2 linked regions of the Homo sapiens genome follow. The protein of the gene in region 2 interacts with the protein of the main gene of each other region in a pairwise test. Each region holds a gene or a part of one and is shown on either strand. Other genes may lie near its edges.

Region 1 (3,753 bases), on a different chromosome or scaffold from region 2:
AACAACAACCCAAAGATGCGACAAAGATTCTCAAAGAGGGATTCTCATACTCCCAATATAAAGTAGCCCTCTGTCACTACTGCCACACCCTGTTTTAATTCTCTGCACAGCACCAATGCCATCCCATCTTTTTCTGGCTTATCATGTGAACATCTTCTTCATTAAAATGTAAGCTCCACAAGAACAAAGCCTAGAGTGCAGCAGCTCCAAGCCTGGGCTCCGGATTCCCACCTCAGCCATGGTGGGATCCCACCTCCGGATTCCCACTGCCTGCAGGATTCCCACCTCAGCCATGATTTAGGTTCATCGCCATGGGCAGCACTGACTCCCCTGCTCTGTGCTATTATCTCCAGTTATAAACGGGGATGATAATACTGCCTACCTCACAAGCTCGTCATAATACATACAAAACACTTAGAACAGTCCCAGACACACATTAAGTGCCCCACAAAGGCTGGCTATTCCTAGCACTAATACCGTCTGTTATGGGAGACGGCATACAGCAGCAGTCAATACATATTTATTTAATGAATGTAAATCCTGTGGCTGAATTCACAGTATGTACAGAACTACATAAACATCCTACTGGGAAAGTGCTTATTAGAAAGGTAAATTTGGTAGCAAGAGCAAACAAGATATTTTGAGAAGCCAAACGTACCTGGCTAACGCAGCAAGATTGCCGAGGGTATAAAACACTGCAAAAAGCTTTATGCCGCCCGGAAGCCACAGCAATCCAGTTCCCTAAGTTAAGATATTATAGTTATTTTAAAATAATTTTATGATTTTAATGGTTAAAATATAAACGTGCTACTGCAGTAATACAATACCAATATTATGTAATATGTTTAAATACAAATCTGCTTGTAGACAGTCTAGTCTGATTACACAGAAAAAATAGTTAATTTTCAATGTTATACACTAACTTGAATCTTCTTCCTATTTGCACTAGCATATATAAATGAGCCATAACAAAACTTTGTGCTTACCAGTAAATCTCAGTCTATTTAAGTTAAATTTTCATGCTAAATACCAAGTATGAAAAGGTAATAAACATCTAAATTACTGACTCTCCAGATCTTTTAACACATTGATACATTTTTCTTAAATTATTTCAACTATCCACAAAACTCCCCAAAATACTAATTTCTACGTATTTTCATTGATCTCTACCCCTTTATTTTAGTTTAATAAATACCTTCCACCAAAATGGTCTAACAGGGATTTAGTAAAGGACATTAGTTTTTGGTACTAAATGGAATTATTAGTCTAATACAAAATAAAAATTATTAAACAATATAAAGCCTTAACTCACAAGAATAGAAAAGAAAACGCCACATACGAAGCAGATGGCAAACCATTTCAATCTGGTGTTGAAACTAAGGGATGAGGCATCCAGGACCTTAATAAAAAATGGGAAAATTTAGAATATAGTCTTAATTCACTACCAATCTGATTCTTTATACTAAATTAAAGCAAAGTTTTAACACATAGTCTGAATCATTTATTTTGCATATCACAGTGTCATTCAAGAATACTAAGATTCCACGGTTGTTAAGGGTAATATGACCATGGTCTGGGTAGCAGATGATGCTGAGGAATAACCATTAATTTTGCAAAGTCTGATAATATGTTTCACAAAAGTCCTTATCTGTTAGGGACAGCCGATATACACTGATATGGATAAAATGACATATAAGATATATTATAAAATATACAAAGATTAAAAAAACACAGGGGGCAGATGCAACAGGCCAGGCAAAACACTGAAACTGCAGAGGCTGGGAAAGAGTACACAGGTTCATTATCTGTTCTCTCTGCCTCTGCAGGACGAATTCCTCAGGCTCCTAGATGCCAGAGTCTGAGTGCATCCGAGTGCATCCGCACTCAGTGCAAGTCCTGCTGGAGGCAGAGGCTGGCCTTCCACACGCCACCTCCCTTCGGCCGGTCATTGGCTGCAGGCCAGGGGTGGGGTGGGGTGACTGCACCCCATGGAGGGTAGAGGACGCTGGCCACCTACAGGAGGCAGCCTGAGCAGCCCCAGCAGAGACGATCACAGCACGCACCAGACGGTACCCGTTCTAAGCTCTTTCAGTCCAACCCATGAAAGTTTTGGGCCCCTCCTCCACCACTGTAAAAACATACTGTGAAATGATCATTTATTCTAGAGCAACAGCATTCCTATATACCATGCAAATTCTAGCCAAATTATGTGGGGAAAAAAGTAGAAATTACTAAGTCTACTTTGTACAGTATGATAACCCAGCACACAGTAGTGGTGAAATAAACACACTCAGATTACTAATTATACTATTAAAATATATTTTCCAAATAAGGCTAAAAAAGTATCTATCAACAGCAGCTGTGCAAGAAACTAGAAATATACAGCAAGGATTTATATTCCAAAACTTAAATTTCTAATTTATACTACCACATCCACTTAAAAATAAGACTACATGCTTATATTTTCAAGAATAATGAAAAATAAGAGAAAGTTCTATATGCAACAGTTCAAAATACATTTGGTTACATTCCTTACCTCAAGAGATTAATCTGTGAATCCTTATGTAGCATGAAAAGCAGATAAAAATAACTAAGTATTCTGTAATGAAACATATATCACTCTTTAACACATTTTAAATGTTTTTTAAGTTTTAATTCACATTCTTGTTTCCAGCAATGTCATCTGTTTATGGCAAAACTAAACACTTGGTTTTAAACAAAGAGTGAAATTGCCTATAAAAACATCTACATTTCATTCTTACTGATCAGGAAGAATATACACTAAGTATATTTTAACTACGCAGGCCAGAATAAACTGCAAAGACTGAATTACATAGTAAATGATCTGTTAAAAAAAATGGAGACACGCCCATCAGCTTCATTTAACCATCCCACAAAGTATACATAGGTCAAAACATCACGCTGTACACAATAAATGTATATAACTTTTATTTGTCAATTAAAAATGGAAAGAATAATGATTTCTAAAGGTTCGTGTGAGTCCACAATGCTGTGAGGATTTAGTGAGAGGAAAAAGCATCCATTTTTCCTTCTTTTCCAAGTTCAAATCACCCCATTGTTCACAAGTTCAATCGCTGCTTTTCAATAGCCAGTTTTTCTCTCAGCAAGGAAACAGCACGGCTATTTGTATAATAGTAGGTATTTTTTCCTCCTATTGCCATCTTCCGTGTATTGATCTTTAAAACGAAACAGCAGGACAAATTATTTCCACTTGTAAACATGGAATATTCAATCCACAAGCAAATGATTTGTCTCAAGTCTTGCAAATTGTCTAGGATACGAAACAACTATACAGATTTCCTGACTCCTAATTGGGAAAACTGTGATATGCTTCAACATGAAAGAAAACCTGGCAGTGCATCTTCCAACTAGGAGACAGAAGGAACCCTGACGTCTGCTTATCACAAGCATTTTTTTGAGACAGAGTCTCACTCTGTTGCTCAGGCGCCATCTCAGCTCAATGCAACCTCCGCCTCCCAGGTTCAAGTGATTCTCCTACCTCAGTCTCCCAATTAGCTGGGACTACAGGTCCACGCCACCAGGCCTGACTAATTTTTTGTATTTTTAGTAGAAACGGGGTTTCACTATGTTGGCCAGGCTGGTCTCAAACTCCTGACCTCAAGTGATCACCCGCCTCGGTCTCCCAAAGTGCTGGATTACAGGCATGAGCCACGAGCCACTGCACCCAGCCTGCTTATCATAAGCATTTATGTGCTGCTTTCTTTTACCACC
Region 2 (3,753 bases):
AGTTATTGGCTTTTGGGTCTCTCCCCTACTCCAACTATGGTAAGATCATCCTGGAACAGAAAAATCCATCTCTCTTTTAGCATTTTATTTTGAGACAGGGTTTCGCTCTTGTCTCCCAGGCTGGAGTGCAATGGCACAATCTCGGCTCACTGCAACCTCCGCCTCCCGGGTTCAAGTGATTCTCCTGCCTCAGCCTCGCCAGTAGCTAGGATTACAGGCATGTGCCATCACGCCTGGCTAATTTTTGTATTTTTAGTAAGAGACAGGGCTTTACCATGTTGGCCAGGCTGGTCTTGAACTCCTGACCTCAGGTGATCTGCCTGCCTCAGCCTCCCAAAGTGCTGGGATTACAGGCGTGAGCCACTGTGCCCAGCCTCTTTTGGCATTTTAATCACTGGAAAGGACCATCTCCCATTGTAATCTAATAAACCACCATATAGCTTTAGATGTTTGGAATTTGGTTAGTATGATCTGATCCCTGGAAGACAGATCACAATTTAAAAGCACTAACAGAATTGAGTTTCTGGACCATGGTGATAACACCAAGGTGGTGGGTGTGCCTAGGTGCTGAATGGACAAAATAAGGCCATCCCTGTGAGACAACCCCTAAGCAGCTAGCTAGTCAGCCTCCTCTCATAGGACAACGTTAAGTCTAAACCAGTGATTTCCAAATACAGGAACTGGACACATCAAAACGATGCAGGGAACTTTAAAAATAAAACACAGATTTTAATTCCTACCCTTGCAAATTCTGATTTGGTACTTGTTGAGGAGCTTGAGAATCTCTTCAAAGTTCCCTAAGGGATTCTCAAGTCCAACCAGGCTGCAGAATCACTGCTTTATATCCTGACAAGGCAACTTATAATCAAAGGTCCCCACTGGGTTCTTTTTTAGGATAGTGTATAACAGGATTTGCTACTAAACAGTAAGAAAAAGAAGAAACTGAAGCATTAATCACTATTGTGATGAACCACTTACTTGAAAGTGTTTAAAGATTAATTCAGGATTGAAGTACAACTGAAAAGGTGTGATCAATTCCAACTGCTGAAATAGAAAAAGAGCTTCTTAAAGCAAATCAAGAAACAAAATTTCATCATTTACAACAAAGAATTAGTAGGTCTAGCAATTTCCAACTCTCGGTCACTTAGACGTGATTTCCTTTAAGCCTTTCTTCTTAGGCCAGAGGAAGAGGTTGGTAAAGAATTCTCTAGGATTGGTAGAATTCTTTGTATCCTCAATACCTAACACAAAAAAGTCTGTTTTATGTTGCAATAGTTGAGGCTGACATGAAGAAATGAGGCAGACAGGTGGTGATATTTTAGACACAGGACAAATAAAAACAGCTGCTATGAATCTACCCACCACATGGGCACCACCTGAAACAGCTGTATGAAACAACAAAACTCACTTGAAATAACGGAGACTGGAGACCCTGCCACCGTTAGGGCTGGGTACCTCCAGCTAGCCCCTTATTTAGATCCAGAGACCCTTTTTATTATAAGCCATTCCCCTCTCGACAGTTTCCAGCTTGCTTTCCCCATTCCTGTTTCTTCACTAAACGGACCTTCCTCTCACTAGTCACCATGGTACCACCTGGCCATTGGCAGAGCTCTCGGACACATTTCTTGGGTGGGAGGCTCCCGCAACCCTAACCCGCTATAGGTCCGGCGCTCATCTCTTAGAAACTGACCTGACCCCCCATGAAGCAGCACTCCCTTCTCGCGTCACTGGATAAGCATTCTTGGCGCCAACTCGAACCCCAGAGTAATCCCTGTACGCCTCCACCCATCCCCGGGACCAGCCCCTCTGGGCCTCCCCGAGGCCCAAACCCCAGTTTCCTGAAGACCCAGTCATATCCAGCCCAGATAATGAGAAGGTGGCACTGCAGCTGCTCACCACGGCGGCGGTGGTGAGGACGCAGGCAGTGGTGTAGGCGCGGCTGACCGGTGGGATCTGCAGGTACTCCAGCCGCAAGCTCTGGTACGCCATCTTCCCCACCGTCGCCTGCCCCACCCCCCACCCACCCCATTTCCCCTTCCGCCAGCAGGCCCCGGCGGCGGGGCGGGCCCAAAGGCCCCCCGCCCACTTTAGTTTTCCCGCGACTGCCCAATCAACGCCAAGCAACCGCAATCCGTAGAGACCTAAGGAACGCACATCCGCCAATCACGAGTTGCGTCGCCACCGCCCCCCCCCAGCGCCCCATCTCCCCACCCTCTCTTCTCCACCAGCCAACGTCCGGGAAAAACGAGTAAGTACAGGTTCCTTCTGCCAATCCCCGCCGGCCACAGCTAACTTTCCCGCCCGGCCCCTTTCTGTCATAATTGAGGTGTCCACAACCAGCCAATCAGGAACGCGAGAGTATCCCGCGTTTGCTTTCGCTCGCCGAGGCGCGTATCAGTCGGAATTTTGGGGAGCCAACCGCGCCGTCTGTCCCTGGCAAGCCAGCGGCGGTTTAAAGGAGGTGGCGGGAAGCCTGTGTGTGCTTCAAATCGTCACCCTCATGGTCGCTCCGGTAAGTGCTGCGGGGCAGCATTTTCTCTGAGGAGGAGCGGGGACGGGCGAGACTGGCATAAGCGTCTTCGCGAGGGAGCAAGGCGGCCTGTGGGTCGGCCTCACCCCGGCCTCCGACCTGAAGATCCCAGCATGCAGCGCGGGCGCGGGGCCCGACGGAAGCCGGGAGCCGGCCGGAAGCAGTTCCTGCGCTCTGGCTTCTGGGTCCTGTCCTGCGCGATCGCGGGGTCTTAGACAGCTCAACTCGCCGAGATGACCTGGGCACCTCTGCGTTGAATCGGCAAATACTGATCAAGCCGCATTTATTCTGCTCTCAGGAACTCTAAGTCTAGCAGAGAAGATGAGGCGGTAGAAGTTCATCAGTCAGTGCCCGAAGAGAGGTCCTAATGGGAATTCGAAGAAAGGAGTTAATCAAGGAAGTGTATTTTTTTGTTGTTGTTTGAGATGGCGCCCACCTGTAATCCCAGCTACTTGGGAGGCTGAGCTAAGAGGATCACTTGAACTTAGGAGGCAGAGGTTGTAGCGAGCCGAGATCATACCACTGTACTCCAGCCTGGGCGAAAGAGTGACACTTTGTCTCAAACAACAACAACAACAAGAAAATTAGCCAGGCATGGTGGCCTGCACCTGTTGTCCCGGCTACTTGGGAGACTGAGGTGGGAGGATTGCTTGGGCGCGGGAGGTTGAGGCTGCAGTGATCTGTGATCGTGCCACTGCATTCCAGCCTGGGCGACAGAGCGACAACATGTCTCAAAAGAAAAAAAGAAAAACAGAAAGAAATCCTACCTTACATATACAGCCAAACAGTTATAACCACTCCATATTTAACCATTACAAACGTAAATTTTTATTTTATTTTATTTTTTGAGACAGAGTCTCGCTCTGTTGCCCAGGCTGGGGTGCAGTGGCACAATCTCGGCTCACCGCAACCTTCGCCTCTCGGGTTCCAGTGATTCTCCTGCCTCAGCCTCCCGAGTAGCTGGGATTGCAAGTATCCACCATCACGCCTGGGTAATTTTTGTATTTCTAGGAGAGATAGGGTTTCGCCATGTTGGCCAGGCTGGTCTCGAACTCCTGACCTCAGGTGATTCGTCCATCCGGCCTCCTAAAGTGCTGAGATTACAGGCATGAGCTATCGTGCTCAGCCTACAAACATAAATTCTTAAGATTGGCTGCATCTTATCTTCCCATAAGATTTGACTGTACTGCTTATTGCAAATTATTTCATAAAGTGCGTCCTAA

Evidence for each region. Proteins that work in one complex are often made in the same cells at the same time.
Region 1: the proteins of DERL2 (region 2) and SFT2D1 interact in binary tests that used the Homo sapiens proteins (3 or more experiments, as listed by UniProt).

The regions. Positions count from the first base shown.
Region 1 is NC_000006.12:166,328,849-166,332,601, forward strand, and holds part of SFT2D1 (vesicle transport protein SFT2A), read right to left. Parts: intron 2,560-3,753; exon of another isoform or gene 2,537-2,559; intron 1,400-2,536; coding exon 1,313-1,399; intron 742-1,312; coding exon 659-741; intron 1-658. UniProt on the Homo sapiens protein: May be involved in fusion of retrograde transport vesicles derived from an endocytic compartment with the Golgi complex.
Region 2 is NC_000017.11:5,484,173-5,487,925, forward strand, and holds the start of DERL2 (derlin-2), read right to left. Parts: upstream 1,990-3,753; coding exon 1,897-1,989; coding exon of another isoform or gene 1,691-1,896; intron 1,045-1,690; coding exon 979-1,044; intron 1-978.